Regions from separate parts of the Homo sapiens genome. Here all the other regions are linked to region 1. The links come from fine-mapping of genetic effects on gene expression. A gene starts in region 1. Each other region holds a variant in brackets. All regions are shown on one strand. Distances are between the middles of the regions.

Evidence for each region. PIP is the estimated chance that this variant, and not a neighbour inherited with it, causes the effect.
Region 2: its variant is fine-mapped to the expression of LINC03020 in whole blood (TOPMed, PIP 0.98).
Region 3: its variant is fine-mapped to the expression of LINC03020 in whole blood (INTERVAL, PIP 0.98).

Annotation. Positions count from the first base shown.
Region 1 is chr8:70,465,337-70,476,767 of GRCh38, reverse strand. LINC03020 (long intergenic non-protein coding RNA 3020) reads right to left here and starts at 5,634. Exons shown (of 4, transcript NR_110653.1): 1 at 4,923-5,634.
Region 2 is chr8:70,038,708-70,050,138 of GRCh38, reverse strand. No RefSeq gene overlaps it. Among named protein-coding and RNA genes, the nearest start is that of PRDM14, 27 kb to the left of the region's middle. The variant C/G (reference allele first, on the strand shown) is at 6,742.
Region 3 is chr8:70,198,267-70,206,266 of GRCh38, reverse strand. All of the region lies in intron 4 of NCOA2 (nuclear receptor coactivator 2), which reads left to right. Among named protein-coding and RNA genes, the nearest start is that of PRDM14, 130 kb to the right of the region's middle. The variant G/TTTTTTTTG (reference allele first, on the strand shown) is at 3,006.

The sequences.
Region 1 (11,431 bases):
TTCTAAAGAAGTAAAACTAATCGCTGGTTCCCTTCCTCTCTTCCATACTTAGAAGGGCCTAAAGGGGTGGTGGCTCTCCACTTTCAGAATCTGAGAGTGTCACTTGTTTGACCTCCTGAAGGACACGTTGTGGACATCACCAGTGCCTTTATGGCAGACAGGTTGGTTTGTGACATTGTGTTTACCAGCTTTTGGGAGAGAACCTTCTTGCTTTCAGGTATGTTTTAGGTGATTAGAGAGCAAGGCTACTACTTTTGCAACATACTAGATAAACAGCAGTTTCCATATTAAGGGGAAATCATATCATACCTGACCATCTTGCCTCCTTGGTTCCACTGGATTAGAAAACAAGCAGAGATAAACACAACTTTGGTGGAGTTGGTTGCACAGCAAGGAAAGGAATAACTAAGCCCTTTAAGATCAATGTAACTGACAGAGTGCATTCTGCAAAAAATAAACACAGCTCTAGGAGAGTTATTGTGAACAATGGTATCTGAAAATGATAGGTGAATAATTTTGATGCACAGATCTTTTTCCCAAGATTGGAAACAAAATCTTCTCCCCTTCTCTCCCATCATTTAACCAAACTTTTGGTCCTCTGATAAAAATCATGCTGTCAAAAATGACTGAACTAATTTGTGACTTTTGACCAAATCAATTTTGATGTAATACAAGATTAAATGAGTGGTTTCTTTTATCCCTCAACCTGAGGTAGAACAAATTGTACTGCTCACGGTGTCCTGCCACACAGGGCTGACTTGACATAAAGCTCAGTATTTTATCACAAGATTTGGAGAATAATTATTAGAGATCCACTTTGCGTGATGTTTATTGGGTTCTTAAAAGATAACTGACCATTTCTTATCACAGAACAGTAGTCTGACATGACATTTGGGATTATTTGAAGGTCTAGTTCAGGACTCTCAGGCCTTCTGTGAGTCTGCCCATTTTTGCTTTGAATTTATTAACTGGGATGACAAGAACCAAGATCTCCCCGCTCATGTTTCTTCCACTCAGTGATAAATTGGAGGGGGAAATCATGCAAGCAATCCTTACAGTGATTTGTACTCATAGCCATTCACACTTACAGCCCTTTGCCAATTACACCCATGTTGTAACTTCTGACACGTAAACAGGCAGTTTCTCACATGAACATATGTTGCTCTCCCCTTTTGAGAAAATGAATCCCAACCTTAACCACACTAGTGGGCTGTGATTAGTTCTAATCCCTAGGTTTTACAACAGGAAAATTGACTATCAGAGAACGAGGGAATGGCAAGTAATCACTCCTGAGTTCACTTTTTTTCTTTTCCAGAACGGCATCACATAACTGCCCCAAACTTTCCTTCAATATACTCGTCAAAATGTCCTCAAGGAAATCATCCTGAAATCCATAAAATGAATAAGCCTGCCCATTGGAGTTGTTTTGCTTCAGTGTAATAGTTGGCAGGAAGATGTGGTCAAACAGACTGCACCATATTAAATGGATTTTATGTTTATTGACTACTTGTAGCACTACTTAATTGATTTATGTGTGTGTGTTAGAAAGCTTTATGCTATGAAACTAAAATATATCATTTATAGTTTATTAAGTCCTGCATTTAGTAAAAGTTGGCATAAGGCCCTAGGTCAGGAACTTTACCCTTCTGTTACAGCAGTGTTTCTGGGAGAAAATAATAGTTGATACACTTTATTTCCACGTATAGTAAATTGCCTAGGAATATAATCCACATGGAAAGGTGGCTTGTTTTTGTTTTTCTTAGGGTCTTGCCCTGTTGTCCAAGCTGGAGTATAGTGGCGTGATCTTGGCTCACTGCAACCTTCGCCTCCTGGGTTCAAGCCATCCTCTTGCCTGAGCCTCTAGAATAGCTGGGAATACAGTCACTCATCACCATGCCCAAATAAATAATTTTTTTTTGTATTTTTTGTTGATACTGGGTTTTGTCATATTGCTCAGGTTAGTCTTAAACTCCTGAGCTCAAGCAATCCTCCCACCTCAGCCTCCCAAAGTGCTGGAATTACAGGTGTGAGCCACTGTGTCTGGCTTGTGTTTCTCAAGTGCTACTCACTGTCATATTACCACTGTGTTTGAATGAGCATTCTTTTGTGATTCTGAGTTGAAATAATAAATTAGAGAAAATGGTAAACGAAGTATAACTTAGTACCTAAGGTTTTTATTCTACTAGTTTTTAGAACTGGCAGGAGAGGCCTAAGACAAAATAAAAAAGATATTATGATAATGCTAAGATCTTGCAAACTGTAATATAATAATGCTCAGATTTTGAAAATTATATTAAATATATATATATATACATATGTACTATGTATGAAAATCAGGCCGAGCGCAGTGGCTTATGCCTGTAATCCCAGCCCTTTGGGAAGCCAAGGCGGGCAGATCACTTGAGGTCTGGAGTTCGAGACCAGCCTGGCCAACATGGCGAAAACCTGTTTCTACTAAAAATACAAAAAAAAAAAAATTAGCTGGGTGTGGTGGCACATGCCTGTACTCCCAGCTACAGGAAGCTGAGGCAGGAAAATGGCTTGAACCCAGGAGACAGAGGTTGCAGTGAGCCGAGATCGTGCCACTCTGCACTGCAGGCTAGGCAAAAGAGCGAGACTCTGTCTTAAAAAAAAAAACAAAAACAAAAACAAAAGATTAATTAAAATTATAGTAAGTTTTAATATAATTACCACTGCTGCATGTTGGTACTCATAGATGGATAACCAACATTAGGAACCTGAGCCTGGCTGGGTGTGGTGGCTCATACCTGTAATCCCAACACTTTGAGAGGCTGAGGTGAGAGGATTGCTTGCAGCCAGGAGTCTGAGACCAACCTGGGCCACACAGTAAGACACCACACCTCTACAAAAAAATTAAAAAATTAGTTGGGCATGGTGGCACATGCACATAGACCCAGCTACTCAGGAGGCTGAGGTGGGAGGATCGCTTCAGCCCAGAAGCTCAAGGCTACAGTGAGCTGTGATCACACCACTCACTCTACCCTGGGTGACAGAGTGAGACCCTGTCTCAAAAAAAAGAACAAACAAAAAGCAAAACCAAAACACAAAAACCTCCCTGAACCTGGTCTTCAGTCACCAAGGTGCTACATAAAGGGTACCAATAATACTTAGAGTAATCAAAATCATAGAGACAGAAAGTAGAATGATGGTCGTCTGGGGCTGGGGGGAGAAGGGAATGGGGAGTTAGTGTTTAATGGATGTACAGTTTCAGTTTTGCAATGTTAAAAAAAAACTTTAGACAATTTAACAGAGTTTAATTCAGCAAAGAACAATTCAAGAACCATGCAGACTCCCCGACCTCCTTGAATAAGTTAAGAGCAACTCTGGCACTGCCTCGCAGTCAGAGAGGATTTTTCACAGAAAAATGCAAGTGACATACAGAAAACACACGTGAGGTACAGAAACAGCCTGATTGGTTACAGCTGGGTGTTGAACACATTCGATCAGTTGGCTACCTGTGATTGGCCAAAACTGGATGATTGGCACAAGAGTAGGTTACAGTCTGTTTACACCTCCAGTCAGGTTACAGTTCACTGTGTATGGAGAAACATTTAGACCAAACTTAAAATATGTAAGGAGGCAGCTTTAGGCAAAACTTAATTTAACAATTGCCCCCTTTTGGTCAACCTCTCAGTTTTGATTGGCCAAAACTTTAGACATTGATGTCACTCTGTCACCATTGTCAGTGTACTTATTTGGTCTCAAATCTCAGTGGGAAATAGCAAAACAGTGAGTTTTTAAATGTGAGAACCAGGACTTCAGGTTTGTTTTTTTTTTGTTTTGTTTTGTTTTTTTTGGTAAGGGTTAGAACAGAAGGGACCTCTTTATGCTGGAATCTCCTGTTTTCAGGTGAGAAAAAAAAACTGGTCTGTTTTTGTTGTAACCAAGAAAATGCTGAATCAGGAAAGTAGTAATCTAAAAATGGCAGCAAAGCTTTGCAGCTTCCTTAGTTTCATTTTGATTATGTCTCATTTAGCATGAGTGACTCCATTTTGATTTGGTCTGGTCTGTTGGGGCCTAGTGCAGAAAGAGGTCTGATCTGATTTGGCCTAGGTCCAAAACAATGGCCTCTCATAATTTTAACAGCAAGATGAAAAGAATTACAGAAGTGGGTGGCGGTGCTGGTTGCACAACATTTTAAGTGTATTTAATACCTCTGAACTGTATACTTAAAAGTGATTAGGATGGTAAATTTTATGTTATGTGTATTTTACCACAATTTAAAAAGTAAACCCAGTAGCAGCGGCTCCTGCCTATAATCCCAGCAACTTCAGGCGCTGAGACAGGAGAATTACTTGAGCCCAGAAGTTCGAGATTGCAGTGAGCTATGATCACACCACTGTACTCCAGCCTGGGTGACAGAGCCAGACCCCAGTTCACAAAAAATAAATAATTAAAAATTAAAAAAAAAAAAGAGGTGCCATTACCTCTAACTGTGGCGTCTCTTGAGCGTGATTTTGAGAGGAAGCCAGTGAGACCAAGAACCCACCAATTCCGGACACAATTTCAGGCCTCACTCTAGCCAGAGTTGCCGGGCTCTTGGGTATGGGCAGGTCCTGTTTTTCCTGCTTCTGCAGCACCAGGGCAATCTACTTGATATGGGAAAAGCTCCCTTGTCCCCCTCGCAGGGTGTGTGATGAGGTGTGGCTCGATTCTTCAGTGCCCTGCTGCTCAGACCTCTAGGGGAGCATACAGGCGGGCAGGCTGTGGGGCTCCGATCGCACAGCAGTGTCTAGGGGTGAATATTTACAGCTCCTGAAGCCCCAGTGGGCGGGCGTGTGTTACAGGATGCTCTTTTAGGTTGCCATCTATAGGCGGTTTGTGTTAGCTCAATTACACCCCCTTTCTTATCACAAGGACAGAAGGATTTCTGTATCCTGGGGTTTCTTGCCCTGGCTTACCTGAAGAATCGGATTACACGTGGGCTTGGAGAATGAGTGCAAGGTTTTATTGAGTAGAAGTAGCTCTCAGCAGATGGGGGAGCCAGAAGGGAGATGGTTTTCCCCTGGAGTCGGGCCCCTTGGCGGCCCAGGCTCTTCTCTGACTGCCCCGTCAAACTCCGCATCATTCTGCTGGTGCATGGCCTGCCGGTGGTGTGTCGGTGCCTGTCGTTGTGTGCTCTTCTGCTGGCATGCTCCTCTCAACGTCCTCTCGAGGACCAGCCACTTGCGTCTTCTTCTGCTAATGTGCTCCTCTCCATGTCTGGCTGGCTGTGTGTCTGCCCACTAGGGTCTTGGGAGGTTTTGTTTTGTTGTTGTTGTTGTTGTTGTTGTTGTTTTTGAAGGAGTCTCTGTCGCCAGGCTAGAGTGCAGTGGCGCAATCTCTGCTTACCGCAACCTCCACCTCCCGGATTGAAGCGATTCTCCTACCTCAGCCTCCCGAGCAGCTGGGACTACAGGCGCGCACGCCATCACGCCCAGCTAATTTTTGTATTTTCAGTAGAGTCAGGGTTTCGCCATGTTAGCAAGGCTGGTCTCGACTTCTTGACCTCGTGATCTGCCCGCCTCGGCCTCCCAAAGTGCTGGGATTACAGGCATGAGCCACCGTGCCCGCAGTCTTGGGTTTTCGTAGGTTCAGGATCGGCGTATGGCGGGCCAGGGAGGTCTTAGAAAATGCAACATTTGAGCGGGAAAGCAGGAATGGGGTTCGTCGGGGAGGAGCCTTAGCCAGGGACCCGCCTTTCTCTACCCAGCACTTCCCTTCCTCCATTCCGCATCATTTAAAGGGACCACGCTTTTCCCTTCCCAGCACTCCATATCATACTGACCTCACTCCTCCAGTCCTGTGAGCAGGACCCAACAAATAAGTAGTATGAGAAATAAAGCTTAGCATCTCTATTTGAAAACACAGGAAAAATTGGGGGCAAAAGTTGTGTTCCATATTGGAATTTATTTGAATTGTCACATCCAGTGTCACTTCTCTTTTGATATATGTCAAGAGCAATAACTATGAAATATTACATATAATTGTTTCCATTCTAAGCAATTGAACCAATGTTCAGCTAATAGCATTAGTGAAAGAGAACACTGCCTGAGCAATGTAAAATAGCGGCTGATATAAACATTACTAGTATTTGGCTTTGAAATATGCTTCTTATAAAGACTTAGATTTACACATGGCAGATTTGATCTCAAAAATTCCAGCAAGACTAGGTGCCATGGTGGCTCATGCCTGTTATCCCGGTGCTTTAGGAGGCTGAAGTAGGAAGATCACTTGAGGTCAGGAGTTCAAGACCAGCCCTGGTAACGTAGCAAGACCCCATCTCTACCAAAAAAATTCAAACAAAATAAAATAGAAGCGTAACTCAAGAGAATTGGGAGGCGGTCTTGCCTCGTTATCCTGGCGTTTACTTCCCACCCCTCTGCCTACTGGCTGCTGGCTGGCAAAGATTGCTAGTGCTCCTAATGGATGCAACTCACAAGGTCAAACTTTTGCCTCCCAATCTTTCCTGACTCAGAGACTTTCATTTTGTGTTTTGTTTGGGATTGATTTAAAGTGCTTCTCTCGCTAATGTGTAAGTTTCATGTAAAAATCAGTGTAAAAATAGAAAACTGAAAGGTCAAATTAAGTATTGTGAATAATGCAAGTGCTGTTAAAATTAAAAGCAAGATTTGCTGGAAGTGATGTGCCCTAGATTGATAGTAGATGGAATCTATTTGTATACCTCGCAGATTATTATGTGTGAGTGTATTGTTCATTTGTCGACCATCATAGACTGGCTTCCTTCTTCTACTTAACCTGTTTTCATTTAGTTTCTTTTTTTTGAGACGGAGTCCCTCTGTCGCCCAGGCTGGAGTGCAGTGGCATGATCTTAGCTCACTGCAACCTCCACCTCCTGGGTTCAAGCGATTCTCCTGCCTCAGCCTCCCGAATAGCTGGGACTACAGGCACGTGGCACCACGCCCGGCTAATTTTTTGTATTTTTAGTAGAGATGGGGTTTCACCGTGTTAGCCAATATGGTCTCGATCTCCTGATCTCGTGATCCGCCCACCTCGGCCTCCCAAAGCGCTGGGATTACAGGGGCGTACCACCACACCTGGCTAATTTTTTGTATTTTTAGTAGAGATGGGGTTTCACCATGTTAGCCAGGATGGTCTCGATCTCTTGACCTTGTGATCCGCCCACCTCGGCCTCCCAAAGTGCTTGGATTACAGGCGTGAGCCACTGTGCTCCACCTATTTAGTTTCCTTATGGCAGGTCTTGGTGGTATTATGGAGCCAGACAGACCAGACTTCAAACCCCAGTAGCAATGCCACTTACAAGCTGCGGGAGCTTAGGAACTTGGCTTATTGTCAGTTTTGACCCTTACTTGTGCCACCTCAAAATGGCATTAATCACACCTCCTTGATAAAACTGTTACAGGATTAGTGATTCCATGTGTATTAATAAGAGCACATTATCTGTTCCATCTTCTTTTATCAATTTTGCAATAACTAATACAGCAACATAAATATTGTGATTATTTTCTTTGGCAGTAAGTTTTGTACTGATAAAGTTAAATAGAATTATTTTATTGGATTTGGGGAGTAAAGAAAAGCTTTTAAAGGGAGAGATTTTAAAAAAACAGCTTTTAAACTAAGCACAAGTAGTTATTTAAGTCTTGCATAGTTATTTCCTCCATTTTGAGTATGATTCATCCTTCTTGCTTAATCATGTGTGGGTTTGAATTTCTTTCTGGAGTAGCTTCTTTATATAGACTACTTTAATAATACTGCTTGTTGTAAACCTACAGGATGCATTTACCTCTGGGAAGTTATTTAGGTCGCAGCTACACATTCAAAACGCTTCGATAATGGTGACCAAACTGATGCTGAATCATCATCAGTTGAGTGAATTTCTTGTGCCTGCAGTACCGTCCCTCATCCTTTAAGACTGGGTCTTGTGTCCACTTCTCTATGAAGCTTTCCTTCGTTCTCTAGAACCTTCTCTGAAAGGTCCAATCCAGTCAATGATTGCTCAGCCCTCAATTCCTATAATATATATTTCAACCCATCAATGTAGCTCTTAACTATATACTTTCACGTTAGTCTCCATTTTAGGTGGTTTCTGCTTTATTTATTTATTTAATTATTTATTTTTATTTTTTTAGACAGAGTCTTGCTCTTGTTGCCCAGGCTGGAGTGCAATGGCACAATCTCAGCTCACTGCAACCTCCACCTCCTGGGTTCAAGTGATTCTCCTGCCTCCGCCTCCTGAGTAGCTGGGATTATGGGCGCCTGCCATCATGCCTGGCTAATTTCTGTATTTTTAGTAGAGACGGGGTTTCACCATGTTGATCAGGCTGGTCTCGAACTCTTGACCTCGTGATCTGCCCGCCTTGGCCTCCCAAAGTGCTGGGATTACAGGCATGAGCCACCGCGCCCGGCCGGGTTTTTTTTGTTTGTTTGTTTTTTGTTTTTTTTTTTAGCTTTGAATAGATTATAAACTTCTCCAGAGCAGATACCATGAATGAGAGAGGTGAGAGTGTGATCCCGATGTAGGGCTATTGTGTTTTTGCTTTTTCTTAGTGCCTCCCACATAATTTGACACATGAAGAGAATTCAACATATTTCTTATGTGACTAACCACAAGCATTCATAAAAGGGAAGTTTTTGTGAAGTGGCTAGGCCTTTCTGGTCAACTCTGGTCTTTTAAATTTTTCGGTAATGTGGGAGGTAAATACTTTTAAGAACACAGGAAATTACCACGACACAGAATATTTGGTGATTTGTGAGGTGAATCAAGATGGAAAAGAAAACTTATCCTAATAACACAGACAGTGGGTGTGCACTCAGATTGCTTTCATGGTACATGAGGATGGCACATCTAACCACAGTCATGCTGCAAGCCAACAGGCCTACCATGTCTGGGTCACCTGCCGGAAATTATCATCGCAGCTGAAAAGACAAATCAGGTAGTTGATTGACTGGATCTAATTCAACTGTCTTCTAATATTATTTAGATTCTACTATTCTTTAGGTAAATTGTCCAGGAAATGTTATATGCTGATTAATTGTGCTTTCAGGAATGTACATGTGTCTATGATAATTTTTTTTTTTGAGACAGAATCTTGCTCTGTCACTCACACTGAAATGCAGTAGCATGATCTTGGCTCACTGCAACTTCCATCTCCCGGGTTCAAGCAATTCTCCTGCCTCAGCCTCCAGAGTAGCTGGGATTATAGGCTCCTGCCACCACATGTGGCTACTTTTTTTGTTTCATTTTTAGTAGAGACGGAGTTTCACCATGTTGGCCAGGCTAGTCTCCAACTCCTTACCTCAAACAATCAACCTGCCTCTGCCTCCCAAAGTGCTGGGATTACAGGCATGAGCCACTGCGCCCAGCCAACTATGATAATTTTGCAATCCCAGAGCAATATGAGAGAATGATACAAATCTAGAGAACCACAGTCCTGTATTAGTAAACACTGAGTCATTTTTTTAGTAAAAGGTATTTATTGAGCACATATTATGTGCCAAATCAATTTAGGTGCTAGGGACACATCAAGGCACAAGACAAACAAAAAATTCCTTCTGTCATGAAGATAGCATGCTGGTAGCTGAGAGAGATAACAAACTATAAACAGAAGTATTGTGATATAAATTCAGGTAGTGAAAAGTTCCGTGAAAAAAATACAGCAAATGAAGGATACTGAGAATGACAAGGGGCAGGTGACCTAACTTATAAAACATGGAAAGGGAAGGTCCCTCTGAAGAGGCAACATTGAACAGAGACCTGAGACATATGATGCGACAAGGCAAGAAGCTTCCAGGTAGAGGATGGAGTAGTAGAATAGCCCTGAGACACAAGCTAGCTTCATACCATACACATAAAGAATATCGAGATGCCCAGCATGGCTGGATTCAGGAGAGAGACAGGGAGAGTGGTAGTTGGGATCCAGTTCATGTAGGGTCTTGTAGTTCGAATTGTCTTCTGAATATTTTGGAAAGCTTTTGGAGGCTTCAGAGTATAGAAATAACATGATTCAGGCTACATTTTTAAAACATCACTCTGGCATCTGTGTAGGGAAAAGATCCTTTGGAAGACAAGATTGGAAGAAGGGAGGCCAGTCAGAGGCTATAACTATAGTCCAGGCAAGTGATGACAACAGCCTCCACCAACATGGAAATCATAGAAATGGTGAAAAGTGGTTGGATTCAGAATATATAGTGCTGGCGGTTCTTGCTGATGGATTGGCTGAAGGATTTGAGAGAAAAAAAAGACTCTGATCTTTCTCATCAAGAGATAAAAAATATAAGGCCGGGCACAGTGGCTCACGCCTGTAATCCCTGCACTTTGGGAAGTCGAGGTAGGCAGATCACCTAAGGTCAGGAGTTCAAGACCAGCCTGGCCAACATGGTGAAACCCCATCTCTATTAAAAATACAAAAAATGGGGACTGGCCTAGCCTCCCAGCCTACATCTTTCTCCTGTGCTGGTTGCTTCCTGCCCTCAAACATTGGACTCCAAATTCTTCTGTTTTGGAACTTGTGCTGGCTTTCCTTGCTCCTCAGCCTGCAGCTGGCCTATTGTGGGATCTTGAGATCATTTAAAGAAGATATCAAAAGAGGAACTGAAAAGTATTTTGACGGAGTCGCTTCCAAGATTGCCGAATAGGAAGAGCTCTGGTCTACAGCTCCCAGCGAGATCAACGCAGAAGACGGGTGATTTCTGCATTTCCAACTGAGGTACCTGGTTCATCTTATTGGGACTGGTTGGACAGTGGGTGCAGCCCACGGAGGGCAAGTTGAAGCAGGGCAGGGCGTTGCCTCACCCGGGAAGCACAAGGGGTCAGGGAATTTCCCTTTCCTAGCCAAGGGAAGCTGTGAGTGACTGTACCTGGAGGAACAGTACACTGCTGCCCAAATACTGTGCTTTTCCCATGGTCTTCACAACCGGCAGACCAGGAGATTCCCTCCTGTGCCTGGCTTAGCGGGTCCCATGCCCAAGGAGCCTTGCTTCACTGCTAGTGAAGCAGTCTGAGATCGACCTGGGATGCTGGAGCTTGGCGGAGGGAGAGGTGTCCGCCGTTGCTGCGGCTTGAGTAGGCAGTTGTATGCACACAGTGTAAACAAAGCAGCAGGGAAGCTTGAACTGGGTGGAGCCCACCACAGCTCGGCCAGGCCTACTGCCTCTCTAGATTCCATCTCTGGGGGCCGGGCATATCTGAACAAAAGGCAGCAGACAGCCTCGGCAGACTTAAACGTCCCTGCCTGACAGCTCTGAAGAGAGCAGTGGTTCTCCCAGCACAGCATTTGAGCTCCGATAACAGACAGACTGCCTCTTCAAGTGGGTCCCTGACCGCCGTGTAGCCTGACTGGGAGACACCTCCCAGTAGGGGCCAACAGACACTTCATACAGGTGGGTGCTGTTCTGCAGCCTCCACTGGTGGTACCCAGGCAAACAGGGTCTGGAGTGGACATCCAGCAAA
Region 2 (11,431 bases), 430 kb after region 1:
TGAGAGGATACCACTGAGTTTACCACTTTACAGATGAGGAAACTGAGACTGAGAGAGATGAAAGAAGTGGGGCAAGCTGATTTGCCTCTAAGAGGCAAAGCCAGGTCTGCCCAGCTCCAGAGCCCAGCCTCCTAACTAGCCTCTATGCCTGGTTTATGGATCCTGTTAAGAATATAGCATTTTTTCTGGGCCAGGTGCAGTGGCTCATGCCTGTAATCCCAGCACTTGGGAGGCTGAAGCAGGTGGATCACCTGAGGTTAGGAGTTCGAGACCAGCCTGGCTAACATGGCAAAACCCCATCTCTACTAAAAATACAAAAATTAGCCAGGCATTATGGTGTACAACTGTAATCCCAGCTACTCGGGAGTCTTGAGGCAGGAGAATTGCTTGAACCCGGGAGACAGGTTGCGGTAAGCCGAGATGGTGCCACTGTACTCCAGCCTGGGTGACAGAGACTCCATCTCAAAAAAAGAAAAAAATAAAAAAAAAAAAGAAAATAGCATTTTTCTGGAGACTACCCATCCCATTCTTCCCTATATTAAGTTAAGCAATAACAGACTGAAATACCCACGTGGAAGATTTGAGACCAGAATAAGCAGGATAAAAGTGCTTTGAAGGCAGCCACAGCTGCTGAGGATCTGTCCCATCCCAGCTGTGTTTCTGCTGACTGCCTGGGGATCTGCTGCACCCTCCACCCATGGCCACAAATGGAGCAAATTCAATATGGAACAGATGCCCCTTCCAGAGGGAGGCTCCCAGCTCTAGCCCAGTCCTTTGAGAGAGAGATATAGTGCAGGTGGAAAAGCAGTGACAGATTCTACTCTAGGGAATTATTTGCTGCCTTGCTGAAGTCTGAGTAATTTATCCTAATGGGAATGTGCCCTGTTGTTTTAGGACTGATTTACTTCATGTTAATTAAGACAGAACAATGGTCTTTCGAAGACGTGGGGGCTCATTGTGTAATTAGGCAGCCTTTCCTTAACTGCTGGTTCAAAATGTATTACTCGAAACATGTTCTTACTGTTATGGGTTTAAACATTATTTTTAAATCAAATAGTAAAACAAGTCATCACAAACTGGTGTGATCCCAGTTTTTTCACTCACTGAATAATTCAAATTAACAACTTCATTCTTTGACCTAGAATAGCAGCAAAGGGAGGTAGGGTTATTTTTTCTTATTTTATTTTTTTTGCTATTTTCTAACAGTCATTCAAATGCATGCATGCCAGTAATTGAACAATCAAATAATAATACCGTATAACGGATAATATATCCTATACTAACTAGAAAATTTTGGGGACCATTTCATTTAATACCTGTTTACTCAAAGTTTTGGTCATATTGATAGGGTTACATAATTCAACTTTTAGTTTGGGAAATACAGTCATTCATAACATAACATCTTTCTATAGTAATACCCTGAAGCTCTTTTATGTTTATTTTTTTTAATGTATATTATTGGCCAGGTGCAGTGGCTTATGCCTGTCACCCCAGCACTTTGGGAGGCCGAGGCAGGAGGATCACTTGAACCTAGGAGTTTGAGACCAGTTTGGGCAACACTATAAGACCCTGTTTTAAAAATATATTTAAAATTTTTAAAAATAAAATGTATGTAATCTATTTCTAAAGCTAATTTAAACCAGTTTAAAATAATAATAAAAGCTGTAGACAGCCAGGCATGGTGGCTCATGCCTGTAATCCCAGCACTTTGGGAGGCCGAGGTGAGCAGATCACCTGAGGTTGGGAGTTCACCACCAGCCTGACCAACAGAGAAACCCGGTCTCTACTAAAAATACAAAATTAGCAGGGCGTGGTGGCCCGTGCCTGTAATCTCAGCTACTCGGGAGGCTGAGGCAGGAAAATCACTTGAACCCAGGAGGTGGGGGTTGTGGTGAGCCGAGATCACGCCATTGCACTCCAGCCTGAGCGACGAGCGAAACTCTGTCTCAAAAAAAAAAAAAAACAGTAGACTAGGACAGTCAAAGTAGAAGACAAAGCACCACGTAGAATGTAGAATGAGATTAAAACTACGCTAATACACTTATTCTGGCTGAACATTTTTAGATGCAGCATAAGGTATAACATAGAGAATGCAGATTTTGGAGTCAGGCAAACTAGTATTTGTCCCCCATTTCCTCATTGTATAATGTTGGAAAAATCATTTGATTTCTGAGGTTTAACATCACATCCATAATATTGAAGAACCATTGCTTTATTTGATTTATCCTCCCAGTCACTGCAGCTATTAATTAGGAGACACCATTATAATGAGGACTGCAGGCAGTATGGTGTACTTACTGGGAATAATGGATACCAGTGGAAAACAGTTTTCTTATTTTATTGTTGGAAATACAGAACTGTTTCTGGAGCTACAGATAGAATTTAGAGATCTCCTGAGGTAGTTTCTCTGCTTATATTTCTTTTCCCTACCTGAGTCTGTATCTGATAATTGTATCATCCTTCCACTCATTAGAATAAAAAAAAATGTATAAAGAGGGACATTTAAAACCCTGAAAAAATAACTAGGCTAAAAGTAAAGCGGCATCCCTGATATTGATGGTGCTCCTAATAAGCCCTCAGGATGTCCTTTCTGAATCTGGGGAAGTTGGCAGTTGCAGTGAACAAAGCTATCAGAGTAGATAGATGCTTGGGATCTCAATGGGCCTGCAGAAGACTCAGTGTTCTGGCCACACTGGCCACAAAGTTACAGCTCATTTGTACCCAGGCAAAGCACAGGGCAGGCTGGGGTTGGTAGGAGCTGCCATTCCAAGTATAATACAGGTAAAATCACAAATACTGTCCTAGACCATCTATTATTGGTGGATCTGATTTTGACATTATAGATTGCAGAATATTTTGCTCAGACATAGTTTTTAAGGGCGTTCAGAATGCTTTGTGAGGCCGGGCACGGTGGCTCATGCCTGTAATCCCAGCACTGTGGGAGGCGGAGGTGGGTGGATCACCTGAGGTCAGGAGTTCGAGACCAGTCCGGCCAACATGGTGAAAACCCATCTCTACTAAAAATACAAAAATTAGCTGGGTGTGGTGGTGGGCACCTGTAATCCCAGCTACTTGGGAGGTTGAGACAGGAGAATTGCTTCAACCCAGGAGGCGGAGGTTTCAGTGAGCCGAGGTCACACCACTGCACTCCAGCCTGGGTGACAAAGCAAGACTCCATCTCAAAAAAAAAAAAAAAAGTTTTATGACTCCAGGGGCAGTAACTGAATAACTGCAATGGACTCTTAAATTTATGAACCCTGCCCAAAGTTCAGGGGAACAGACTTGTACATTGAATTATTTCAATAGAAACATTGAGCTAGAATCTCATATCATAGAACTTTTTTGTTGTGGCCGAGCACCATGGCTCACGGCTGTAATCCCAGCACTTTGGGAGGCCGAGGCAGGCAGATCTTTTGATGTCAGGAGTTCAAGACCAGCCTGGCTAACATGGTGAAACCCAGTCTCTATTAAAAATACAAAAATTAGCCAGGCGTGGTGGCATGTGCCTGTAATCCCAGCTACTCGGGAGGCTGAGGCACAAGAATTGCTTGAACCGGGAGGCAGAGGTTGCAGTGAGCTGAGATCGTGCCACTGCATTCCATCCTGGGTGACAGAGTAAGACTCCATCTCAAAAAAAAAAAAAAAAAAAAAGAACTTTTTTGTTATTTGGCAGATATTAAAATAGAATTACCAAAATTATCTTGAAAGGAAAATAATGTTAAAAATTATATAAAACAGAGATAAATGTCTTCCTCATTGACATTCTCTTCATAAAGTATGAGAATCTCATATAGAAAATAATGGTTTTCTTTATTTTTTTTTTTTTGAGAGAGAGTTTCACTCTGTCACTCAGGCTGGAGTGCAGTGGCATGATCTTGGCTCACTGCAACCTCCACCCTCCGGGTCCAAATGATTCTCCTTCCTCAGCCTCTTGAGTAGCTGGGACTACAGGCGCCTGCCACCGTGCCAGGCTAATTTTTTGTATTTTTAGTAGAGATGGGGTTTCACCATCTTGGCCAGGCGGGTCTTGAACTCCTGACCTCGCGATCCACCCGCCTCGGCCTCCCAAAGTGCCTGGATTACAGGCGTGAGCCACCGCTCGCAGCCAGAAAACAATGGTTTTCTACATTATTCAAAGAGGTTACGTGTTCAAGAAATAAAAAGTACTTCCACTAGTTAATGCAAAAAATTTTCACCACATCACTTTGTTGGTGTAAAGGAGCTTAAATAGAATAAATTCTAGTATTTTGAGATGAGATATTTAGCCCTGATTACAACTAGGAGAGAGAATGTTTAGGGAGAAGATTGGTTCTATTTTTGCACATGATCTCAGGATATTCTTTTCACTGTTAAATTGTTTTTCATCTTAAATTATCTCAGAATTCTTATTTATTTATTTATTTATTTATTCTCAAACTCCTGACCTCAGGCGATCCACCTGCCTCTGCCTCCCAAAGTGCTGGGATTACAGGTGCGAGCCACTGCACCCGGCCAGAATTCTCTTCTCTTTTGAAAAATAAATTTTAGGCCGGGCACAGTGGCTCACGCCTGTAATCCCAGCACTTTGGGAGGCCGAGGCAGGTGGATCACGAGGTAAGGAGATCGAGACCATCCTGGCTAACACGGTGAAACCCCGTCTCTACTAAAAATACAAAAAATTAGCCGGGCATGGTGGCAGGCGCCTGTGGTCCCAGTTACCCAGGAGGCTGAGGCAGGAGAATGGCGTGAACCCGGGAGGCGGAGCTTGCAGTGAGCCGAGATCGAGCCACTGCACTCCAGCCTGGGCAACAGAGCTAGACTCCGTCTCAAAAAAAAAAAAAAATTATTGTTTATATTTGAGATGAGAATTCTTGATACATTTTTTGGTATATTAAAAAGTGAGATAAATTGTTTGTGCTTTAACATGTAAATTGCATCGTAGATTCATAAAATTCATCTTGGATTTATTTCTAGCACAGTACTTTCTATTGAAAGCAGTTTACTATCAAGAAAATCTATCAAAGGGGATGGAATCCCATTCTTCATTTTCATGAATTGTTTTAAAAAGTGTTCTTCTGGCCAGGGTCGGTGGCTCACACCTGTAATCCCAGCACTTTGGGAGGTCGAGGTGGGTGGATCACGAGGTCAGGAGATCGAGACCATCCTGGCCAACATGGTGAAACCTCGTCTCTGCTAAAAATACAAAAATTTGCTGGGTGTGACCGCACGTGACTGTAATCCCAGCTACTCGGGAGGCTGAGGCAGGAGAATCGCTTGAACCTGGGAGGCGGAGGCTGCAGTGAACCAAGATCGTGCCGCTGCACTCCAGCCTGGCAACAGAGCCAGACTCCGTCTGGAAAAAAAAACAAAACAAAAAACAATGCCGGGCGCGGTGGCTCACGCCTGTAATCCCAGCACTTTGGGAGGCCGAGGCAGGCGGATCACGAGGTCAGGAGATCGAGACCATCCTGGCTAACACGGTGAAACCCTGTCTCTACTAAAAATACAAAAAATTAGCCGGGCGTGGTGGCAGGCGCCTGTAGTCCCAGCTACTCGGGAGGCTGAGGCAGGAGAATGGCATGAACCCGGGAGGCGGAACTTGCAGTGAGCCGAGATCGCGCCACTGCACCCCAGCCTGGGCGACAGAGCGAGACTCCGTCTCAAACAAACAAACAAAAAACAAAAAACAAAACAAAACAAAAACAGTAGACCTCCATTTGTTTCTGTGTGGGGAAGGTAGGGGGTGGGGGAGGGGCAGGGGTTGAAACTGAATTTCGCTCACTCTGTCTCCCAGGCTGGAGTGCAGTGGCTCATGATCATGGCTCACTGTATCCTCAACCTCTTGGGCTCAGGTGATCCTCCCATCTCAGCCTTCTGAGTAGCTGGGACTACAAGCATGGGCCACCACGTCCAGCCAATTTTTTTTTTTTAATAGAGATGGAGTTGTCACTTTGTTGTCCAAGCTGGTCTCTAGCTCCTGGGCTCAAGCGATCTTCCCGCTTCCTGGGCTCAAGCGATCTTCCCACTTGGTCTTCCCAAAATGTTGGGATTACAGGTACAAGCCACTATGCTGGGCCCATTTGTGTTTTTTTTGGCATCTCTATATATGTATCAATTGTTTTTTTCAATTTTAGCATGTGTGCTGCTGAAGCAAGCACTTTTTTTTTTTTTTTTGAAACGGAGTCTGGCTCTGTCACCCAGGCTGGAGTGCAGTGGGGCGATCTCGGTTCACTGCAAGCTCCGCCTCCCAGGTTCACGCCATTCTCCTTCCTCAGCCTCCCTAGTAGCTGGGACTACAGGCGCCCACCACCACGCCCGGCTAATTTTTTTGTATTTTTAGTAGAGACGGGGTTTCACCGTGTTAGCCAGGATGGTCTCGATCTCCTGACCTCCTCATGATCCACCCGCCTCGGCCTCCCAAAGTGCTCGGATTACAGGCGTGAGCCACCGCGCCCGGTGCAAGCACAATTTTTTAAGTGTTAATAATGAAAATATTATGTAAGATTTTTCTTACCTAATATATTATTTTTTTAATTCTTGGCATTTGTGTTTTGTTTTGAGACATAGTCTCTTTCTGTCGCCCAGGCTAGAGTGCAGTGGCGCTATCTCTCTCATTGCAAACTCAGCCTTTCAGGCTCAAGCGATTCTCCTGCCTCAGCCTCCTGAGTAGCCGGACTCACAGGAGCACACCACCACGTCTGGCATTTTTGTATTTTTGGGGAAATGGGGTTTCACCATCTTGCCCAGGCTGGTCTTGAACTC[C/G]TGAGCTCGAGTGATCCGTCTGTCTCGATCTCCCAAAGTGCTGGGATTTCAGGGGTGAGCAACCGTGCCTGGCCTTTTTGTGTATTTATTTATTTTAAAGAGACAGAGACAGGGTCTCACTTGGTTGCCCAGGCTGGTGTGCAGTGGCCATTATAACTCACTCAAACTCCTGGGCTCAAGGTATCTTCCTGACTCAGTTTCCTGAATAGCTGGGGGTTGGGGGTGGGGTTCGCATTATTAACCAATGCACGTACTGAGATGCAGCCAGAGAATGCAGAGGGAAAACTGCAAAACAAAATCACTCATTTTATCCCCATTAAGCTTGCTTTGGGGTCAGTAGGATTTTTTTTCCTTTGGAAAAGTTTCCTCAACCTTACTGCTACAAGGCTGTGCAGACCTGACCTAGGGAAGAGCCCTCTAGGTGAATTCCACTCCCCCGGGTTATCTGATTTAAAGGTGCCAGAACCAAATTCTCTTAAATTTGATTTTGAATCTATCTTCCATTAAAACTGTGTACGGTGTCTTCCAAGGTTGCTGTTCCGGATTCTCCTTAGAGGGAACCGGCCGTCTCTCTTTCCCAGTTGTTAAATACTATACCAAATCCCTTCAGCCCTAAAACCCCCTCAAGGCAAGTCCAAGGTGGGTCTCTCTATTCCTGATGATAACAGGGGGGTCTGAAATCTTTCCTGTTGACTAGTAGCTTAGGTTATGGCTGGTGTGACATGTGGCTGGTGTGACATGGGATCCCAGTCTTGTGCACGTGCCCAAGGGGAGGACTGCAGGGCCTGGGAAGGCCAGTGCAAAGACAATGCTCCAATATAAGGCCCTTTAAGGCCCTCCAGGCTCTGGCTGCCTGGGGGTTTTGAGCCTGCAGACTCAAGTGCCCAGTAAGAGGAAGAAGACACTTGAACACTGTCAGCCAGGAACTTTTGCAATTGCCAATTTATGAATTGCAAAGGCACCTCCTGGTTCACCAGTTAGCTGGATACTTACATGCAATTGTTTTTTCAAGATGTGGCAAGATTTGAGAGGGAGAGAAAGTAAATACGAAGAAACAGATGTTTGTAAACTATTACTTGAATAACAAATACAAAATGACTCTCAAAAATAGAGATCTGTCTGTGAATTACAGTATATTAATCACAAAATGCTTAAAGGCAGCATAGGGGAAATTCTCTCTGAGAAACCTAAACTCACAACCCAAACAGGACAAACACTATGATTCCACTAATATGTGGTACCTGGAGTAGTCAAATTCACAGAAAGTAGAATGGTGGTCACTGGGCCTGCAGGGTGTCACTGTTAAATGGTTGTAGAGAATCAGGTTTGCAAGATGAAGAGTTTTGGAGCTGGATAATGGCTGTGGCTACACAACAATGTGAATTTACTTAATGCCACTGAATGTGAAGTAACTCAGGAATGGAAAATCAAATCTTGTATGTTCTCATTCATAAGTGGGAGCTAAGCTATGAGGATGCAAAGGGATAAGAATGACATTAATATAATGGATTTTGGGGACTGGGGGAGAAGGGTGGGAGGGGGGGTGAGAGATAAAAGACTACATTTTGGGTTCATTGTACACTGCTTGGGTGACAGGTGCACCAAAATTTCAGAAATCCCCACTAAAGAACTTACCCATGTAACCAAAAACCAGCTATTTCCCCAAAACTAGTGAAATTAAAAAAAAAAAAAAAAAAGGCCAGCCTCAGTGGCTCACACCTGTAATCCCAGCACTTTGGGGGGCCAAGGTGGAAGGATCATTTGAGACTAGGAGTTCGAGACTAGCCTGGGCAACATGTAAACCCCATCTCTACAAAATACAAAATAATTAGCCAGGTATGGTGGCGTGTGCCTGTAGTCCCAGCTACTTGGGAGGCTGAGATGGGAGGATCACTTGGACCCAGGAGGTCGAAGGTGCAGTGAGCCGTGACTGTACCACAGGGACACCAGCTTGGGTGACAGATGACAGAGTGAGACCCTGTCTCAAAAAAAAAGAAATTTAAAAAAAGTTTAGACAATAAATGTTACATCTATTTTACCACAATTTTAAAAAATCATTTTAAAATAATTTTTTTAAAATTAGACCAATGACAGATGCTACAAGTGGACAAACCATATGAATCCTGGGGCTCTAAAGGTACTGCCCCAATGGACAGCCTTCCCCCAGCTCTGAGAGGCTTTTCCCCTGCTGTCTTGTCTTTGTTCCTAGCTCTTCCTATCGGATCCCGGCACTGATGATAGTGTGAGGGCTGCACACTCCCCACTCCCAGGAGAAGCTTCACTTTTCAGAGTGTTTACTCCAGGCCCTCTCTCTAAGTGGCTACCTGTCAGTTTCCATTTCAACTCTACCTCTACTTGCAGGACTGCTGACCACCAACTGACATATTACCTGTATTGATTCTCTAAGAGCTGTCGAGGTGAAGGGAAAGACTATTCTAAGGCAACCCTGAGCTCTTAGCTGAGTGGGATCATAAAACGCCCCCATTAAAGGTTTCATTCAATAACAATCTTTGCAAAAGTAAATGGACATCAGTCTCCCACCCCCACAACTAATACAGAGGCCATTATCAATGGGCAGAGAGCACTGAACGGCGGCAGTATCAGTTTCCACATTTTCAAATGATTCCTTTAATGAAAAGCTGCATTCTTTTCAGGCCATAAAACACCAAGGAAAAGTCTATTCATTTAGCTATTGTACATATTAGCTTATTTATTTATGGCTAATGCTGCCATCAGCATTCCCTGGGTGTAGAGTTAACTCACTTAATGATTGGTTGATAAATTGCTAAAAAGCGGAGAGGTTGAAATTGGCTATCATGCAGGGTGATTTAAGTTTGTTTTGTCATTTCAAATACAAACTCACTGTCTTTATACTCTATTTTAAATGATCCATCTCACATAAGGTGTTTTATATTCGCATGCCTATTTGATCCAGAGTGCACAAAGATTGATTTTCAACCACGTGCTTAGGAAATAAGCATATTGTCATTATTTTACCAAAAGAGAGATAACATCTACTAGCTATTTGAAATAGATCTTCACCACCAAATTATGGACTCTTTTATTGCAAAACTCATCTTCTCATTCTTTCCCTCTCTTGCTCCCTTCCTTCCTCCCATCTTTCTTTCATTAAATAGTTACTAGTAGGATCATCTCAGCAGTTTTATGTCTTGCATAGCAGGGACTCGATGGTTGTTGACGCAATCTGCTTTGGGGAAAAAATAGTGCCTAAATGAGACAAGTCATGAATGGGTCTTGGAAAGCAATTAAACGCTACACCTTGGTGTTTTCTGAACATCAGGGTTCAGAACTTCATTTCCTATTTGTACAATTCTGAAGATACTGTACTTAAAAATGTCCACTTGTATTTACTTGATAATAGCTGATGTGGAAATGGTGGAAGATAAGAGTAATGAAATGTTGACAGCAAAATGTGTTCTTTCATTAAATTACCCCCTTTTCTTTGTTAATTGAGATATACATGTAAAAATCTGAAATAAACTACAAAGCGAGGCCGGGTGCATGGCTCATGCCTGTAATCCCAGCACTTTGGGAGGCCGAGGCGGGCGGATCAAAAGGTCAAGAGATCGAGACCATCCTGGCTAACATGGTGAAACCCTGTCTCTACTAAACATACAAAAAAAATTAGCCAGGCATGGTGGCAGGCACCTGTAGTCCCAGCTACTTGGGAGGCTGAGGCAGGAGAATGGCGTGAACCTGGGAGGTGGAGCTTGCAGTGAGCTGAGATCGCGCCACTGTACTCCAGCCTGGGTGACAGAGCGAGACTCCGTCTCAAAAAAAAAGAAACTACAAAATGAGGCCTAAAGTTCACTTGCTAGACCTTCAAAATTATGTTCTGCTGAAACAAATGGAGCAGAAGGAGGGCTGCCCATCAGCCCACAGCAGAATCACTAACTGCAGTTTACAAATCTGAGAGCCCTGCAAACCCTGGTCCCAAGGATACTCCAACTTCCATGTCCAGCAGGCGAGTCGGCTCCTGAAATATGTGCTGCCCTCTGATGTTCCTCCCCGCTCCTGGTTCCTGGGGTACATTTACAGGCTTCCTGCATTCAACCTGTAAATGTTTGTGCCCTGCACTCTTGTCACTGTTCTCTCTGTCCCTGCACAGTCTCCTGCATTGCCATAGCTTGTTTCGATTGCCATCTGTACACTGACAATTCCTACATTTTGATCTGTCTTTCTACATGGAATCTCTACTTGTGTGTCTCAGAGGCAACTGACTTTGACACATCTAAAACTAAACTCAAGATCTTTCCTACAAACCTGACAGTGTCTCCATCCCATCCCCAGGTCCCTATCTGAGGAATGGCACCACTATCTACTGCCCTAGCAAGCTGGTTGTCACACCTCACACCCAGTTCATGCAATTCATCTCAGAAGCCTAAGGCCCTCATCTCAACCCATCTGATAAAATAACTTTTATATCTGTTCTTGCCCCAATCCAGATCATTTTCTTCCCAGCTAGAGGCATCTTTTCAAAACACAATGTTATCACTCCTTTGCTTAAGCCCCCACCCCCTTTTCTTTTCTTTTCTTTCTTTCTTTCTTTTTTTTTTTTTTTTGATACAGGGTCTCTGTCATCCAGGCAGTGGCACACTCACGGCTCACTGCAGCCTTGACCTCCTGGGCTCAGGTGATCCTCCCACCTTAGCCTTCCTGATAGCTGGGA
Region 3 (8,000 bases), 270 kb after region 1:
GTACACTCAGAAGTACCCACTTGCAGGTTCAAACACCAAGATAGAGAAATTCTTAAATATCTTAGTTTATAGTTCCTTATGACATTGTCACTAATGACTTAATGCAGAGTCATATTGTGACACTGCGGGCACATTTGTAGATAAGAGCCCTTGGGCTGAGCCCACTAGCTGCCAGTCCTTACCTTCTGTCCTACTCCCACCCCAGCTTTAGTGAAGAGTGCCCACATGTTTCCTGGCTGCTCAGCCCTCTCTTGTACTTGTCAGAGGGTGGGGGAGGTGAATCAGTATGCTACCTGCTCCTGCCACTTTGATTGCTGGGGCATAGTATCTGCCATTGTGCCCAGGGGAGTAATACTTGGCCATTCCTATACAAGAATCTGCTAAAGGTACTCCTTAAGATCCTCCTTGAGGGAGCCAGGTTGATCATTTGCCCCGACTTCGTGACTACTAGCGGAGTCTATGACAAAGTCCAAAAGAAGAACCCTCACCATAGAAGACTAGTACCCCTGTGATTTGTCTCCAGTCCTGCCATTCTCCCTTGCTCCAACCGACAACCTCCTTTGCACTTGCATCTCTTCCCCATGACATACACTGGCTCAGGCTCTCACGTTGTGGTTTCCTCCTTCTGGGTCTTCTGTTTGGGAATGCCTCTTTTTTTTTCCCCTCTCAGCTGGTTGACATCTGCTCACCTTTAGTAGGCCATCCTGATGGAGTATCACAGCTATTCTGCGTTTGTAGTGTATAGTGACAGGGAATCTGGGTGGATGATAGTAGAAGGTCCAGTGGCAAGGGGGCTTCACCAAGACCTCGGGTCTGACCAGTTTGGCCTACTACTGTATTCTTGTGGCTCATTTCATCAGTACGTATACCCAAAGCCCATTACCCTAGACTACTTATTATTGCTGACACATACTTCACATACTTGTGCTTTTTCACTTTGGTGTGATTATTTGTATTCTTTCCTCCCTATCCAAAATACTGCTTTTCCTGTTTCTGTCTATTCCCATTACATTCCTACTGTTCATTCTTCAAGGCCTATCTCAAACACTGCTTTTTTTTTCACAAAACACTTTCTAATCTCCAAACAAATATGAATTCATCTCCTTTGACATCTCTGGTACTGTCTGATCTTACTCTGTTTAGTGTTTGTTTAGTGTTTTAGGTACTTCACTTTCTCTTCACCCACTGAATGACAGATTTCTTGATGGCAGAGGTTGTATTATCTACCTAACCCTTGGACCTGCAGCACTTCTTTTTTTGAGACAAGGTCTTGCTCTGTCTTCCGGGCCAGAGTGCAATGGTACGATCTCCGCTCACTGCAACCTCTGCCTCCCGGGTTCAAGCGATTCTTGTGCCTCATCCTCCTGAGTAGCTGGGATTATAGGTGTGCACCACTACAGTCATGCACCACCATGCCTGGCTAATTTTTGTATTTTTAGTAGAGACAGGGTTTCGCCATGTTGCCCAGGCTGGTCTTGAACTCCTGAGCTCAGGTGATCTGCCCTCCTTGTCCTCCCTAAGTGCTGGGATTACAGGCGTGAGCCACCGCACCCAGCCACCTGCAGCGGTTTTGAGTATCATGTTTGTTCTTAGTTTATGTAAAATAAATATTTGTTGGATTTTTCTGATTCCTGGCCTTTATTCAGCCTTGTGTAATGGTTTTATATCAGGAGAAAATACTGCCCTAAATTTAAGAACATAACATTTGTATTATAGTAACTGAGTGAATACATTCCCATCCTTGCACAAGGATTACAGATTACAACCTATCTTGTGACAAATATTATTTACAATATTTTTGTTTGCCTCCTGATAGTGCATTAACATCTTTATAAAACAAGTGGTGGTGAACTGTTAACTCTCTTAGATTCTGATAAGCATAGCTGGAGCCCTGTTTGTTTTTGTAAGGATGAAGAATCCTCACAGCTTGTCGACTAGAATATATTTTGAAATCCTATTCGCCGGTCATGGTGGCTTATGCCTGTAATCCCAGCACTTTGGGAGGCTGAGGCAGGCGGATCACTTGAGGTCAGGAGTTCGAGACTATCCTGGCCAACATGGTGAAACCCCGTCTCTACTAAAAATACAAAAATTAGCCTGGCATGGTGGCACACGCCTGTAATCCCAGCTACTCAGGAGGCTGAGGCAGAAGAATCGCTTGAACCCGGGAAGCAGAGGTTGCGGTGAGCCAAGATTGCACCACTGCACTCATGGGTGATAGAGCGAGACCTCATCTTAAAAAAAAAAAAGAATCCTATGAAAAGAAGTATTTTATAATTTTTTATTAGGAACTTTAATTACCATGGAATATTTTCTCTAATGTTTTAAATAGACATATTGTTTTAGACTAGAATATATAATATAGAACGCACATTCACATTTTATGTTAGTGCTGCGCAGATATTAGATATATTGGTTTTGAAATAACTCATGTAAGAATTTGCCGAGTACATTTAAATTTCTGTGAGCTGATGTTTACATTTAATTCATTCTTTTAGTTTGAAGAATGATGCCAATTTTTGAGAAATGAATTAAATATTTGTGCTGTGGTAGGGAGAAGAGTTTAAACATAGAAATAAACAAAAGATATAAGAGCACAAATACCACTGTTTATTATTGTCATTCACTGGTTAGCTTAGGTTTAAAGTAGGTTTTTCTGTTTCTTTCTTTCTTATTTCTTTTTTTTTTCAGTTGAGGTCTTGCAATGTTGCCCAGGTTTGATTCAAACTTCTGAGTTCAAGTGATCCTCCCACCTCAGCCTCTTAAGTAGCTGGGATTATAGTAAAGTACATTTTTCATGGGTGTTTGTTTTGGGTTTGTTTTTTTAAAAACAAATCAATAAGAACGATCCTATTTTAAAAATCTGTTGTACTGGTAGAAGAAGGGAGAGGGAACTGTGACTAATTTTATGGACTTTAGACTTACGTATTTTCAGACTGATATGGATTATACAGTAATAAATTACACATGCAACTATTTCCTCTTTCTTTTTTCTTTTTTTTTTT[G/TTTTTTTTG]AGACAGAGTCTTGTTCTATCACCAGCCTGGAGTGCAGTGGTGCGATCTCGGCTCACTGCAACCTCTGCCTCCCAGGTTCAAGTGATTCTTCTGCGTCAGCCTCCTGATTAGCTGGGACTACAGGCACATGCCATCATGCCCAGCTAATTTTTATATTTTTAGTTGAGACGGGGTTTCACCGTGTTGGCCAGAATGGTCTCGATCTTTTGACCTCGTGATCCACCTGCCTCAGCCTCCCAAAGTGCTGGGATTACAGGCATGAGCCACCACTTGATCTCTTGACCTCGTGATCCGGCCACCTCAGCCTCCCAAAGTCCTGGGATTATAGGCATAAGCTACCGCGCCCAGCCCTTGCAACTATTTTCATTGGTCCTTCCAAGGAGACTTTTTTTTGGTTGGTGAATTTGTGGGTGGGGTAGTAAATAAGCACATAAAGTAAATTGACTCTCTTACCAATTTTTAGGTGTAAATTACAATATTGTTAACTATATGCACATTGTTGTACAGTGGATCTCTAGAATTTCATCTTGCATGAGTAAAACTCTGTTCCCAGTAAACAGCAACTCTGTTTCCCTGCCCCTGACAATCACCATTCTAGTTTCTAGTTCTGCTAGTTTGACTACTTCGGATACCTTATATGAATAAAACAAGGCAGTATTTGTCTTTTTGTGATTGGGGTTCTTTCACATGGCTTAATGTCCTCAAGGTTCATCCATTTTGTGGCATGTGACTGGATTTCCTTCTTTTTTTAAGCCTGAATAAGATTCTACTGTGTTATATACCACATTTTCTTTATTCATTTATCCATTGATGTACATATAGATTGCTTCCATATCTTGGCTGTTATGAATAAAATACTGCAATTAACATGGGGATGCAAATATCTCTTTGAGATCCTGTTTTCAATTCTTTTGGGTATATACCCAGAAGTGAGATTACTGGCTTATACATGGTAATTCTGCATTTAAATTTTCAGGGAACCTCCATAGTGTCTTCTATAGTGGATGCATCATTTTACAATTCCACCACCAGTGTGCAAGACTTTCCATTTTCCCATACTCTCACCAACACTTACTCTCTGGGGGTGGTTTTGATAGTGGCTGTCCTTAATAGGTGTGAGGTGATATCTCATTGTGGTTTTCATTTGCATTTTCCTGCTGAATAGTGATGTTGAACATCTTTTCCAAGGAGATATTTTGAAAAGAATAATTATCTAATACTATATTGCATCACAGAATGCCTTCTATAGTCAAGTATCATAATATTTATCACTGAATAATCTAGGGCACTAAACATGATCATAGGCCAAGAAAATGGGAGCGGGGAGATTCTAAGGTACAGGAAGGAGGATTCTTTGAGGCAGATTAGAAGTCAATAGGAGAATGAGAGAAAACCACCATGGCATTGACATCTCCTTTCTGGACATTTTGCCTCATTTCAGTCGTTTCTCATGTCCCCCTAAAGAGTATTTCTTGCGCTGAAGCTTTTTGCTACGTTAGACTTCCTATACAGGTTACAGGGAAAGAAGAAGTGTAATGGCTGTCCTTCTATCTGTAGTTTGGGCATGGGCAGAATAGAGGCACTCACTTCCAGTTCTTTCCTCCTCTTATTACTGCTGCTCACTCTGAAATATTTTAGTTCATTTCTTCTTACAAAATGTTCACCTTTTGTTAATTACTGAGTCATTTATCCCTGGTAATCAGTGTAGGAGCTTGTGTTTTTATCCTCTTATCATCCCCATCCCTGAGATTTGTAAGGTAATAACTCCGGGGCAACAGTAATAGTGTTCTTCACCTCAGCTTTATAGGTAAGAAATGGAGCCTCTTACAGCTTAGGTGTTGTCATGAGTGCAAAGTCTGCTAAAAAGTTGACCTGCAGTTCTGGACTTGGAGATTATGATTGCTAGTCCAGCTTTTACTCCAGAGGTGTGTTTATCAGCATGTCAGATTCTGGTTCATATTTTGTTAAGAGATTTTCTGTGAATGTGACTGTAGAGGATACTTCACAAAATTACAAGAATTGCAGTTCTGCTTGTAATACTTATTGATTTAAAGACTCTAAATACCAATTATCCTTTAACCTGAGAATTGATTTTAATTTGACCTTTTTTGTTGTGGTAAATATTCATAATATAAAATTTACCATCTTTAAATGTGCAGTTCAGTGGCATTAAGTAAATTCACTTTACTTTTTTTTTTTTTTTTTTTTTTTGAGACACAGTCTCACCCTGTTACCCAGGCTGGAGTGCAGTAGTGTAATCGTGGCTCACCGCAGCCCCTTGACTTCCTGGGCTCAAGTGATTCTCCCACCTCAGCCTCCCAAGTAGCTAGGACCACAGGTGTACAACACCACATTTGACTTTTTTGGTAGTGTTGAGTTCTCGCTATGTTGCACAGGTTGGCCTTGAACTCCTGAGCTGAAGCAGTCCTCCCACCTCGACCTCCCAAAGTGCTGGGATGATTACAGGCATGCACCACCACACCTGGCCTTACATTCACATTTTTGTGTAACCATCACTACTGTTCATCTTCTATGAATTTGACTATTATAGTTACCTTGTGTAAGTAGAATCATGTAATATTTGCCCTTCTGTGACTGGCTCATTTCACTTAGTGTAATGTCCTTAAGCTTTATCCATGTTGTAGCAATTATTGTTCCTTCAATTGTGTCACCTGACTAGGGATAGGTAGTGGCGAGTCAGAATTACACAATGATTTTGTCAGTCAGGAAACCCTTAATGAATGCCTTCTTCATGGAGCTGGAGTTGAGCAGTAGGAGAGACAGGCCACAGATCAGTAAATTACAGTGCAAAATCCATCCCTAGAGTAAGGCAGTAATGCTGTATGCCTTAGGAAGTGATCTTGCTTGGGCTTCATGGAAGGTGGTTGGTCTCTTGCCTTTCAGCTAGAAATGAATAGATAAACCAGGACCCATAATATTGAACTCCAATAATATTTGATGTTCATTCTAACAGAGGTACATACGTGTACCTTATAAATAAATATACATATTTTATGCAGTCACCCCTCTGAATCCATGGGGGATTGGTTCCAGGACCCCCATGGATACCAAAATCCTTGGATGCTTATGTCCCTGATATAAAGTGGTATAGTATTTGTGTATAACCTATGCACATCCTCCTGTTTACTTTAAATCATCTGTAGATTACTTATTATATAATATGTAAAACAATATAAATGCTATATACATAGTTGTTATAGTGTATTGTTTAGGGAATAATGACAAGGGGGGAAAAAGAAAAGCTTGTTCATGTTTGGTACAGACCATCCATCTTTTCCTGAATATTTTCAATCTGTGGTTGGTTGAATCCACCAATGCAGAACCCATGGATACAGAAGGCTGACTGTATACATTATATAGAGGTACGAAAAATCCTGATAGCGTGAGTATTAAAGATGTTTCTTTTAGCAAATTCTGGCCTAGTTGGCTGTCAATGGATGTAATTAGCCTACAGCTAACAGAGGAGTGAATAGGGAGATGGCAGGATGTGGCCTGGGACCAAGAAAGATCTGAGTTCTGCCTCCTTATGATGGTTTTCTTGTCACCATACTGTTTGCTCGTTCTTCTTCTCTTTATTGCCAAATTTCTTACAAAATGAAGGAAGTTACACTCCTGTTTACTGTTCAGCAGCTAAACTCTGGCCTGTGTGCCCCTCACTGCTCCCTGGACTGTCTGCAGCGACTCCCGTTGATCAGAGGTGGCAGCTCTTCTTCCCATCTGCCTGCCTAGCTTCTCTGGTAGCTGTCTCTGTTGACCATCCCTCTCTACTTTTTTTTTTTTTTTTTTTTGAGATGGAGTCTCACTCTGACAACCCAGGCTAGAGTGCAGTGGCGCAATCTTGGCTTTCTGCAACCTCCACCTCCTGGGTTCAAGCAATTCTCCTGCCTCAGCCTCCTGAGTAGCTGGGACTACAGGCACCCACCACCACACCCAGGTAATTTTTTTTGTATTTTTAGTAGAGACAAGGTTTCATCATGTTGGCCAGGCTGGCCTCGAACTCCTGACCTCAGGTGATCCTCCCACCTCAGCCTCCCAAAGTGCTGGAATTACAGGCATGAGCCACTGCACCTCACCCCTTTCTACTTTTGAGCTGTACCACATTCATCCTCACTCACTGGCTTTTTTTCCTCATCTAAACCTTGGCCCTTTCTTCTTCTCAAATAAAATTCGCTCTTTAATGAGTTTTAACTATTGCTTGTATTTGTGCTGACTGTCAAGGTAAATCTGCCCTTGACCTTTCCCTCATCTTTCATTGCACAGATACTCGGTGAGTCCCTCCCCACAGCCCCCGTCTTACAGTTTCATTGTCCGTCCAGATTGCCAGCTACCATTAGACATCCACAGGGGTGTTCCACAGGTGCCTTAAATTGATACTCTCAAACCAAACCCGTTTTCTCCTCTGCCTTCTGAAAAGACTGCCTCATCCTTTTTTCTGTGCTCTATCTCAGTCTGTGTAACCACCATGCGCTGATCACCTGTTTTGTCCTTACCGAGGCTAGAAACCTCAGTTCCAGCCACCTTCTCTTTTACCTCTTCCTTCCCCACAATCAGCCAATTTAGTCAGCTCTGTCAGTTCCTCACTGTATTCTGTGCTATATAACCCTTTTTTCCCATGTTTATTTTCAGCACTCTAATTTAAGACATCTTTTCTCACCTTAACTCATCTCTGCTTCTTTACCTTCTATAATCCATCCCCGCTGCTATCACCATTAACTTTCTAAAAATACATTGGCTGTGTAACTCCTGAGCCTCCAGTGAGTCTCCCTGCCTGCAGGACGAAGGAAAATGCCTTCCCATGGTATTCAAGGCCCTTTGCTGGCTGGTCCCATTGTACTTTCCAGGCTGTCTCCTGCTCTTATCTTTCTGGCCATCGTACTTCTAGGCAGACCTCCAGCCTTAATTACTCTTTAACTCATAACTGCACAGCTTGTGTGCCACTTTTAGATCAAATGTATACATCATTTTGGCTTGTA